Linked DNA regions of Homo sapiens. The protein of the gene in region 2 interacts with the protein of the main gene of each other region in a biochemical or structural test. Each region holds a gene or a part of one and is shown on either strand. Other genes may lie near its edges. The genes, in order: PTEN, NEDD4 and SMAD3.

The links.
Region 1: of the proteins of NEDD4 (region 2) and PTEN, one has a biochemical effect on the other in vitro, tested with the Homo sapiens proteins (7 studies listed by BioGRID, with this or other methods).
Region 3: the proteins of NEDD4 (region 2) and SMAD3 interact in a test that uses a peptide from one of them, tested with the Homo sapiens proteins (3 studies listed by BioGRID and IntAct, with this or other methods).

The regions. Positions count from the first base shown.
Region 1 is NC_000010.11:87,866,443-87,870,274, reverse strand, and holds part of PTEN (phosphatidylinositol 3,4,5-trisphosphate 3-phosphatase and dual-specificity protein phosphatase PTEN), read right to left. Parts: intron 1-3,832. UniProt on the Homo sapiens protein: Dual-specificity protein phosphatase, dephosphorylating tyrosine-, serine- and threonine-phosphorylated proteins.
Region 2 is NC_000015.10:55,839,991-55,843,822, reverse strand, and holds part of NEDD4 (E3 ubiquitin-protein ligase NEDD4), read left to right. Parts: intron 1-1,659; coding exon 1,660-1,889; intron 1,890-3,095; coding exon 3,096-3,217; intron 3,218-3,305; coding exon 3,306-3,376; intron 3,377-3,832. UniProt on the Homo sapiens protein: E3 ubiquitin-protein ligase which accepts ubiquitin from an E2 ubiquitin-conjugating enzyme in the form of a thioester and then directly transfers the ubiquitin to targeted substrates. Specifically ubiquitinates 'Lys-63' in target proteins.
Region 3 is NC_000015.10:67,068,602-67,072,201, reverse strand, and holds part of SMAD3 (mothers against decapentaplegic homolog 3), read right to left. Parts: intron 1-3,600. UniProt on the Homo sapiens protein: Receptor-regulated SMAD (R-SMAD) that is an intracellular signal transducer and transcriptional modulator activated by TGF-beta (transforming growth factor) and activin type 1 receptor kinases.

The DNA.
Region 1 (3,832 bases), on a different chromosome or scaffold from region 2:
AAAATCCTAACATGGCCCAAACTGAGGAAATTCAGTTACAATCATACACCATAAATGAAAATACAAATAATTTCCCTACATACATAACCTGAAATTACAGTTTTTCAGAGCAGTAGCTACCATTTAAGTATTTACAATGTGGCAGGTACTATGCTAAATGAAATTACTTATTATTATCTCACTTACTATTCAAGATAAACGTATGCGGTAGGTTCCATTATCATCCCCATTTTACAGATAAAATAGATTGAGAAAATCTAAATAACCTACTCAAAGTCATCCAGCTACTAAATGGAAGATCCAGGATTACAAAACAAGCAGTCTGGCTCCAGAGCCCACACTGCCTCCCTAAAATCTAAAATGAAACAATGTATATATGCTTAAAAGTATAGATAAACGTAATACTCAAAATTTTAACATAATTTAAAATAGATCTGACCATATTTAAAAACTATAGAACAATATTCTCTAAGGTAGTCTTTTCTTTAAAGAAACAAAAATTCGTTTTTTAATAAATATTAAGATAAAAGGTTTGCTAACTTTGTATACACATACACACACAGAGAAATCAAACACTGGTTAGATTCACTGTTCATATTTGAAGTGGTGAGTACTGATAATAATTATGTGTATAATTACTTAAAATATAATGTGTAAACAGTCTTCTTTTTCACACTATGTGGAGGTCAAGAAAATTCTTTTGATGGCAGGTACAGCTACAATATCCATCTCTCAATATTCTCAACACTGGCCAGGCGCAGTGGCTCACGCCTGTAATCCCAGCATTTTGGGAGGCCGAGGCAGGCGGATCACTTGAGGTCTGGAGTTTGAGACCAGCCTGGCCAAGGTGGTAAAACCCCATCTCTACTAAAAGTACAAAAACTATCTGGGCGTGGTGGCATGCACCTATAATCCCAGCTGCTTGGGAGGTTCAGGCAGGAGAATCGCCTGAACCTGGGAGGCAGAGGTTCCAGTGAGCCGAGATCCTGCCACTGCACCCCAGACTGGGCGATAGAGCGAGATTCCATCTCAAAAAAAAAAAAAAAAAAAAAAAAATTCTCAACACTGCCAAAAAGTAATGCCTTGAAGATGTCCTAATACCTTGAAGATGTTCACACATGTCCCAATGTCAACTGTTGCAAATGAAGAATCTGCCTTAACTATACAGAACTAAAACTTCCCAAATAAAATTAATTCACCCTTAAATTATGTTACTCTTCTTATATTTGCCGATACTTATTTATTCCAGTGCAAATTATTTTAAAAGAATTAAATTGCTAATACTTCCTCTGCAACCAATGAAAAAAATTCAAAAAACTAAGGGAAAGGTGAATAGTCAAGTACAATATACTAATTTCACCTTTCTTGGCAAATTATTTTACATTAGTGAATGCATATACTCAATATGTACAAAGAGAATCACCAAACACAGACCAATATACTTTTAACCACCTATGGAAGAACGTATATGTGGCAGTAATGCACCCTATAAAAGACTTACAGTTATCAGTTTGCTCAGCAAAGCCTTACCAATTTAAGGTTAGTCTAACCTCAACATTATTCTCTCTGATAAGCAACTAAATTAATTTCAAAGCTACCAAATAGAAAGCAATTGTAAAACAGAACTGACTGACCCCAGTCTCACAAATTTCCTAAGTCACTATCTTCAGAACAAATCCTAACATCTTTTCTTAATGAATTCAGGCCACAAGATGAATTCTTCAATGCTGACTGTGAAAATCAAGTTTAACAGAAAAAATGAAGAAAAAGGTAACAAGATTAAGAACTAATGGGTTCCATGTAATAAAACTTCTGAACTGTTTGTTTAACCCAACGGTTTCTACAGAAAAAAAAAAATACATTTCTTAAGCTATGTTAATATTACATTTTCTGGAAGCTAAATCCTTGTAGTATGGCAGAGGCCTCACATTTCAATTAAGCAGAAAATTGTCATATGCATGCAACACTTCTACAATTCTCTTTACAAACTCTGAAGTCACACACAATATCAATAATAAAAGTGATTTCCTAAGCTTTCGTCTTACTTAAAAGATTGAGATGAAAATTTAAAAATAGCACGTTTACTTCAAGTGAATTAATGTTAAAACTTTGTGAAGTGAATTTCCCATAACAAATACTCCTCCATTAAAAGTCACTGAAGTGATTACTTCAGAAGCGGCTTAAAATATTTTTTTAAGTGTTGCGCTATCACCAAATGAACAAACAGCAAATGGAGGCAAATTTCAAAATAACATTAGAAAATAAGAATTGAAGACTTCTTCACTTCCAAAAAGTAAGCCATTTCATAACACTAAGAAGTTTATGTATTTTATGTGGCTATGAGAAAGCAGATGCACTGTTCCATACAAAAATTAAAATATCACCAGTTGCCTTTCCCATGTTATTAAAAATAAAATTCTAAAAAGGTAATAAAGGAATCTTTCTTTACTATCTTCTAAAACTAAGTTTAAAATGAAGGTGGTTATACCTCACCATATTTTATTATCTTTAATCATTTAGTATTTACTTAGTATATTATAAGCAATGTAAATCTGCATTGATGACTATACTGCTGTGCAAACTTTTACACTGGCAGCAATAAAATTCCTTTTTCCTCATATAAACTGTACATTACTCCTTTCAGTTGTGCTTTACACTTGAATAAGCACTATGAAAAATGAAGTTTGTAAGTTATCATACAGCAATTAGGTGGTCCAGTCATGTTTTTCAGGAAATATAACTTAGCAGATACAAAACAATGTAAAATAAATGTTGTGAATAGAATACTTTTTAAAACCCTCATGATTAATTTCAGTAATCACTTACCTTGAGGTAATTTAGGTAACTTCAATAGTCACTGTACTCTCTACAAGTTAAAAGTATTCCCTGTGAACATTTATTTGAAAAGAGGCAAATCTACCAAACAATAAAAATACAACAGAAGCCTAACGTTTCCACATACCCTAAATACACTTAATTTTTCTATAGTCTCAAATTCAGCACTATATTTCAGACTAATATTAAGCATATAACCCTACTAACAAATTTTTAGAATAATTTAATTTTGCGATAATATTTTAAAACTGAATTATTGTCCTCAATTTTCCTCGGAGAAATGGCTTCATTATTAATCTTTCTTTATCAGATAAAAATACTCCAATCACTACTTTCATAAAGGAATTTAACTTTTCACAGGTTAGTTACTGAAATAAATACTACAACATGTCAAAGACAAAGTCTTCAATGACAATTTTAATGCCTTCCCACTCCAATAAACAGAAAACATTAACGTGAAAACAAGCAAACCAAGTACGTTGGAATATCAAAATTATTGGGAGTGCAATTATCAAAAAAGCAAGCACTTCACTGACTTTCCTTACTGACTTTTTTTCATATCAACTTTTGGCTCAATAAAACCACAACTCTAGAAATTAAGTGTTATTAGTCATTTGACGCAATATTTGATACTGCTTTCTATGCATATCATAACTAAAAGTACAGTTTTAGAGAAAGTTTTAAGTCACACAAATTTCATGTGTAGAGACCAACATACGCTGAAATCAAAGAAAATGCCAGTCATGTCACAGCTCACATGTAAAAACCTGGTAAAATAATTTTAAGGTCTTAATAACCCTGATAATTTAAAATCAAGTGGGAAAAGTAAAAGTAGTGTGTTATGTACTTTAAGTGCTGAAAGAAATCTGTCTCCCAGACAGCATTCAATTATTTTCTTCAAAGGCTTTTTTTTCAAAGTTACATAAACATTTAATTTTTTGTTCCTATATATTTGGATGACTGTCAGTAATTCATGCTAATAGTAGACTGCTTTGGA
Region 2 (3,832 bases):
TGCTTACCTGCACCAGCTGCCTAGTATCCAGTCTAAAGTTGCTGTTCTGCAAGCTTACCATTTTTTTAATGACATAAGCAGTATAGGAAACTGCTCATATCATGCTTATATTGCTTATATCAACTGCTTACATTATTATGTTTCTATAGGGCTTTCCATTTTCCCTAAATAAATTGAGAATGAAATTGATTTTTTTTCCTTAGAGCTAACCTTCTTTTTTGGAGGTGACAGAATATTGATGGCATGTTTTCTCTTACTGGTTTCCCCTGGAAATTTGCCCATGAAGTACTGAGGAATAAAATATTTAGATATATCTTTTGTAAAATTTACAATAAGTTCTGCCTAAAGCATAGTTGTGTACATTTGTCACATAAGCAAAGAACGTACAAAAGATTAGTGAGGCAATGTAGCTCCATTAATTAAGAGCACAGACTCAGGAGCTAAGACTTTCTTAAGTCGTCTTCTTCAGTTTTATGTGTAAAATGAAGACAATAATAGTAGCTTTCGCATAGTGTTGTTATGAGGTTAAACACGTTAACCTGCCATTCCAGGGTACCCATGCCTGGCTGTTTTAGTCCGTTTTCATGCTGCTGATAAAGACATACCTGAGACCAGGCAATTTACAAAAGGAAGAGGTTTATTGGACCTACAGTTCTACATGGCTAGGGAGGCCTCACAATCATGGCAGAAGGCAAGGAGGAGCAAGTCACATCTTACATGGATGGCAGCAGGCAAAGAGAGAGCTTGTGCATAGAAACCATTAGATGTCGTGAGACCCATTCACTATCATGAGAACAGTGCAGGAAAGATCCGCCCCCATAATTCAATCACCTCCCACCAGGTTCTTCCCATGACACATGGAGATTGTGGGAGTTACAATTCAAGATTAGATTTGGGTAGGGACACAGCCAGAATATATCACTGGCACAGTCTGTAAATGTCACCATCTGTTAATGAGTGAAGCAAGATAGACTCCAGGGAGGAAAGTAGAGGTAGGGAAAAGCCTGAACAGACAGGCACAACAGCTAGCAGGCAGTGGCTATCCTACAGGTCACAGAACGGTGTTCATTGGAACTTAATATGAAAAGGACTGTTAACGAAATGCCTTCATGGGGGCATTACCATCACCATCAATTGCTTCTTTAGGCCGGGTGCCATGGCTTATGCCTGTAATCTCAGCACTTTGGGAGGCCAAGGCGGGAGGATTGCTAGAGCTTAGGAGTTTGAGACCAGCCTGGGCAAGATGGCAAGACCTCAAAAACTTAAAAAATTAGTCAGGCATGATGGCATGCGCCTGTGGTCCAGTTACTTAGGAATCGGAAGCAAGAGGATCACTTGAGCCCATGAGGTCGAGGCTGCAGTAAGCCATGTTCACGCCACTGCACTCCAGCCTGGACTACAGAGCTGTCTCCAAAAACAAAAGCTTCTTCAGATGTAAAGAAGTCTATATTACTAAGTGATTAAAGAAAATGCAGAAACTGTCTCATACCATAGAGGAAACCAAGACAATATACCTAGTTGTGTTTTCCCTGAGTATATTACGTAAGGAAAAAGAGACTTGGACACAGGGTGTAGAGGGAATGTTATAACTTTATGAGAGATGGGTTTGTTATTATGTTGAACTGATTTAAACAGTACGTCTCTCCTCTGGATTTTCAGAATGACATTCCAAACAAATTTGAAATGAAACTTCGCCGAGCAACTGTTCTTGAAGACTCTTACCGGAGAATTATGGGTGTCAAGAGAGCAGACTTCCTGAAGGCTCGACTGTGGATTGAGTTTGATGGTGAAAAGGGATTGGATTATGGAGGAGTTGCCAGAGAATGGTTCTTCCTGATCTCAAAGGAAATGTTTAACCCTTATTATGGGTTGTTTGAATATTCTGCTACGTAAGTACCTTTACAATGATTATCGGCAGAAAAAGAAAAATCACTGTTTTAAAAGTAAGAGTCGGCCGGGTGCAGTGGCTCATGCCTGTAATCCCAGCACTTTGGGAGGCCGAGGCGGGCGGATCACAAGGTCAGGATATCGAGACCATCCTAGCTAACACGGTGAAACCCCGTCTCTACTAAAAATACAAAAACTTACCCAGGCGTGGTGGCGGGCGCCTGTAGTCCCAGCTACTCAGGAGGCTGAGGCAGGAGAATGGCGTGAACCCGGAAGGCGGAGCCGAGATCACGCCACTGCACTCCAGCCTGGGCAACAGAGCAAGACTCCTCTAAAAAAAAAAGTTACCATTTTAGCCATTTTAAATATACAATTTAGAGTCATTACATACATTCACATTGTTGTGCTGCCATCCCACTATCCAACTCTAGAACTTTTTCATCTTCCCAAAATGAAACCCTATACCCAGTAAGCACTCGCTCCCCATTCCCTGGCAGCCACCATTCTGCTTTCTGTCCCTATGAATTTGACTCCTCGGGTACCTCACATAAGTGGAATCATTCAATATTTGTCTTTTTGTGACCAGCTCATTTCACTTAACATGATGTCTTCAGGGTTCATCCATGTTGTAGTATGTATCAGAATGTCCTTCCTTTTTAAGGCAGAATAATATTCCATTATTTTTGCATATAATGCTTTGTTTAGGCTGGGCGTGGTGGCTCATGCCTGTAATCCCACCACTTTGGGAGGCCAAGGCTGGTGGATCACAATGCCAGGAGTTCAAGACCAGCCTGACCAACATAGTGAAACCCTGTCTCTACTAAAAATACAAAAATTAACCAGGCATGGTGGCGGGCGCCTGTAATTCCAGCTACTTGGGAGGCTGAGACAGGAGAATCACTTGAACCTGGGAGGCGGAGGTTGCAGTGAGCTGTGACCGTGTCATTGCACTCCAGCCTGGGCGAGAGCAAGACTCCATCTCAAAAACAAACGAACAAACAAAACTTTGTTTATACATTCATCTGCCAAAGGACATTTGGGTTATTTCCACTTTTTGACAGAAATTACTATTTTTAAAACCATTAAATCCAGTGGAGGAATGTGGTTCTAACAGTGGTAAACAACTCTTAAAGGAGGAAGATTATTTGTAATTATTTGTCATATTAAAGTTTTTCAAATGAAGTATTTAAATGGGGTTGTCTTTACAGGGACAATTATACCCTACAGATAAATCCAAACTCTGGATTGTGTAACGAAGATCACCTCTCTTACTTCAAGTTTATTGGTCGGGTAGCTGGAATGGCAGTTTATCATGGCAAACTGTTGGATGGTTAGTATTAAGTATAAACTTTTTACAATATAATTACCTGTTTTCTTTCACTTGGTAATCATCCTAAATGTATTTGGTTTTTTGCAAGGTTTTTTCATCCGCCCATTTTACAAGATGATGCTTCACAAACCAATAACCCTTCATGATATGGAATCTGTGGTATGTCTTTTTCACTTATAGTATAGACGAAGTATAATTTAACAAGCAGCTTGAACATTTTGAAGAATTTGCTTTTAATGACATGGAAATTAATATATTATCATGTTTCAAAATACAAATGAACTTTTTCCTCAACATTTTATTATGAAAATTTTCTAACATATAATAAAGTTGGAAGAATTTTACATTGGACAGTTGTATATCAACTACTCACAATTGCTTTTTTTCTAGATTTACTTTATCACATACCTATCTGTCTATCCATCAGTCTGTCTTAGTTTCTTCATGCATTTCAGAGTAAGTTATAGATAACATTAAACATCCCACTAAATACTTCAATAGGTTATACCAAGTTATATGTCTTTTGAATCAGTATTTGCATTATGATCTTTTATGATGAATGTTATATATATATATATATATATATATATATATATATATATATATTTTTTTTTT
Region 3 (3,600 bases), about 11 Mb from region 2:
TTATTCCATTATAATAATACAGCAATCACATGTTTACATTATTAAACCAATATTTATTTTTTAACTCATTTAGTTGGATTCCTGATGTGATAAGCTTGAAACAAATTCTTTCAATTTCATCAACTTCTTGCATTTCTCATCAGAATTAAATGCGACTGTATTCATATTTTTCTGTTATTAAAATTGTCATTTAAAACTTCACCCTTGCAAAGACTTTTTAAAAAATATACCACTAAAAGCACCTATGTTCATTCAGAAACTCAGGCGTCTAGGATTTATTCTCAGCAAGTGTTAACTAGAGAAATGAGAAGCTAGGTCACACCGAAGCTTTGAATTTCAAAACAACCATCTGCAAGTTGTCCACTTTTCATTTATTTATTTATTTATTTTGAGACAGAGTCTCGCTCTGTCGCCCAGGCTGGAGTGCAGTGGCGCGATCTCGGCTCACTGCAAGCTCCGCCTCCTGGGTTCACGCCATTCTCTTGCCTCAGCCTCCCGAGTAGCTGGGACTACAGGCGCCTGCCACCAAGCTCGGCTAATTTTTTTGTATTTTTAGTAGAGACAGGGTTTCACCGTGTTAGCCAGAATGGTTGTGATCTCCTGACCTCGTGATCCGCCTGCCTCGGCCTCCCAAAGTGCTTGGGATTACAGGTGTGAGCCACCGTGCCCAGCCAAGTTGTCCACTTTTTATTAACACTCCCTGTCATATTCTGAGCTGATACATCTAAAGTCCCTGTTCCCACCAAGGAAACCTGAATTTCAGTTTGCAGTACTAACTTACTTTTTACTTCAAAGAGAAAATGCTTTACAGTGGAGTAAAATATAGCACCCAAGTCACTAGCTGTTCAGTGCCAGTTACAAGGTAACATATTTATAGCAGCACTCAGTTTAGTAAAAGAGGATAAAGACGTCCTCATTCTTATAGGGAACTATCCCCATGTACCAAAAAGTTCCCAACATCATACTGCAGTCCAAAAAGCTTCCTTTGGATAACCCTTGTCCCCTTCTTAGTTTTCCACCTCTCATGGGTTCTCCTCCTCTCTACACCTCCTCCCACAGAATTAACTGTGTTTCCACATTGCTGGGCACTTAGCACATTCCTCAGCTGCAGCTCATGCCTCATACCTTTGGGCAAGTCTGTCTCCCGCTCTAGACAGGGAGCTCTTTGAGTACAGGGACCCTGCTGTGGTCATTGTAGTATGTTCTCAACGAAGGACTGAATAATTCAATAATGAATGAATGATGCAGAATGAAGTATAAACGTAACATACCTGTCAAATTCTCTGGTTCACAAAACACTTCCACAGAACTTATCTCATCCTGACTTGACAGGTGCAGATATAAAAGCTGTGAAACTTAAATGGATTCCCAAATCCTTGCAGGTGGTAAAATGGCAGGTACAGGACCTGAATTTTGTGTTTTTTTCAGAAAAAAACAGATGCCTGTCATTATTTTATTTCCTAACATAGTGAATTCTACAATATTTAAAAGGCACATCAACGCCCGCCCCCATCAAAAATCATCCATACTAGATCTCATATTTCTACTGGTAGCTGGGAATGAGAAAGAGATAGCAGTTAGATACTCAAATAATGCCCTATTCATGTTTCCCTTACTGATGTGTAAGCTTCTCACAGGCTGGGAGCTTCTCAAACGTGTCTCTGCATCCTCCTCTGGTACCTAAAAAATTGACTCAGACATGGGAGGGTCCAATAAATATCAATAAATCAACAAAATCCAGCCCTGTAACAACAGAGGGGCTGTCTGCAAACATTCCACTCCCAGGTGCAAGCAGCATGTTCCAAGGTTCTAAATGTTCCCAGGGAACGTCAAGTGGCGCCTAGGTTCAGCTGCAGCTGAGTCAGATCCCTCATCAGCTACCTATTGTCCTGCAGGCACCTCCTCTTCTCAGGCCCTACGTGGAACTCCCCTAATCAAACTTAACAAGAGCAAAGAGATAATGGACCACCTCCCTAGCAGCTGGAAGGGGGCTTGCTTCCAATGGGCCACACGGGCATGGTGCTCTGAAGTGCAGCCAAGAGAAAAGGGAGGCCTCTACAGCCTTAGTAATAGGTCTATCCCCAGAAATCTGGAAAAGGCATGTTAAAGACTAGGATCTTTTTCCTTTCTCAAAGTGAGAGTACCCTGGCAAAAGTCAAGGAGATAATAAGAGGAGGCTACAGTAAAAGATCAGATTCGGTGAGGCGCGGTGGCTCACGCCTGTAATCCCAGCACTTTGGCAGGCCAAGGCGGGCAGATCACAAGGTCAGGAGTTCAACACCAGCCTGACCAACATGGTGAAACCCCGTCTCTACTAAAAATACAAAAATTAGCTGGGCGTGGTGGCGGGCGCCTGTAATCCCAGCTACTCGGGAGGCTGAGGCACAAGAATCGCTTGAACCGGGAGGCAGAGGTTGCAGTGAGCTAAGATCATGCCACTGCGCTCCAGCCTGGGCAACAAGGCAAGACTCTGTCTCCAAAAAAAAAACATCAGATTCACAGGGAGGGAGTAGATGCTGTGTGTCAGACCTAGTGTTTGCTTCAATTCTCCAATTTTCCACTGGACTGGGTGCTCTGACACAAGAAAGCCCAAATTCCCTTCCAAACAAGCAATGCTTTAAGCTTGGTCTAGCTCCCAACAACGAGGCCAAGGCATGGATTCCCTGGTGGAAGTACAAGCTACCAGTGTCTACCAGAAAACTAAGTTTTAAGTGTGCCGAGCTCCTTATTCCTCATATAACGCTCACACACCAACTCTCATTCAGCGGCAAATGCTTTGATTCCATTCTTATAAACTGGCAAGGAAGATACCTGCAGCTTTACTCAGGTACTCAAGCAGGTGAGGCATGAGAGGCTGTTATAAAACTTGTGTAAATTCTGCCAATCCTGCCAGACCTCAGAGTATCCTGACAGCCCCTTTGTTGGTGTATCTAAATGAAGCTCTTACCACTTCCTTGGCACCAATCTCTTTCACCTTCTTTATGTCGATAAGTGTGTATCACGCCAGCTCCCCTGATAATTGAAACAAGTCAGAGCTGGTGTCACAGAGAAGCAAGCCTGTGGTCTGGAAGTCCCTAGTATACAGCTCTAATTGCCAAATGTTGCTGTTGCTGCTCATGATTATATATTAGCCAAAACACACTTGGCTTAATCTCCTTAGACTGAGGGCTCCTTAAACCCCGGAGTCCAGATCTTGCAGAGTGTTTTTAAGCACCCAGTGACCAACCCCCCACACACAGGGGGAATGACTAAGTTAAACATTTTCCTTTCTCTACTTTCCAAACTAAAAGGCAGTTGTGGTGAAAGCAGACAATTTGACAAGCAACACTGCAATCTATGGGGCTTAGCAGACACATTGATATCACCAGCACAGGGCCAAACCAGCCACCTCCCCAAGACGTGGCCTTTAGTTTTCTGCCCACGACCAAAACAGCAGCAGCTGTTGCCAAGGGACACAAGGTGACCCAGAGGCGTGGGCACAAAATCCAAGGATGAAAATCCATTTTGTCTGGATCCACCCAAGCAACTGGGTTTCCCTAACTGAAAAAAAAGATGAAAAAAAAAATCTACTTTTGTATTCAGTCCTATCCAGGCAGGCAG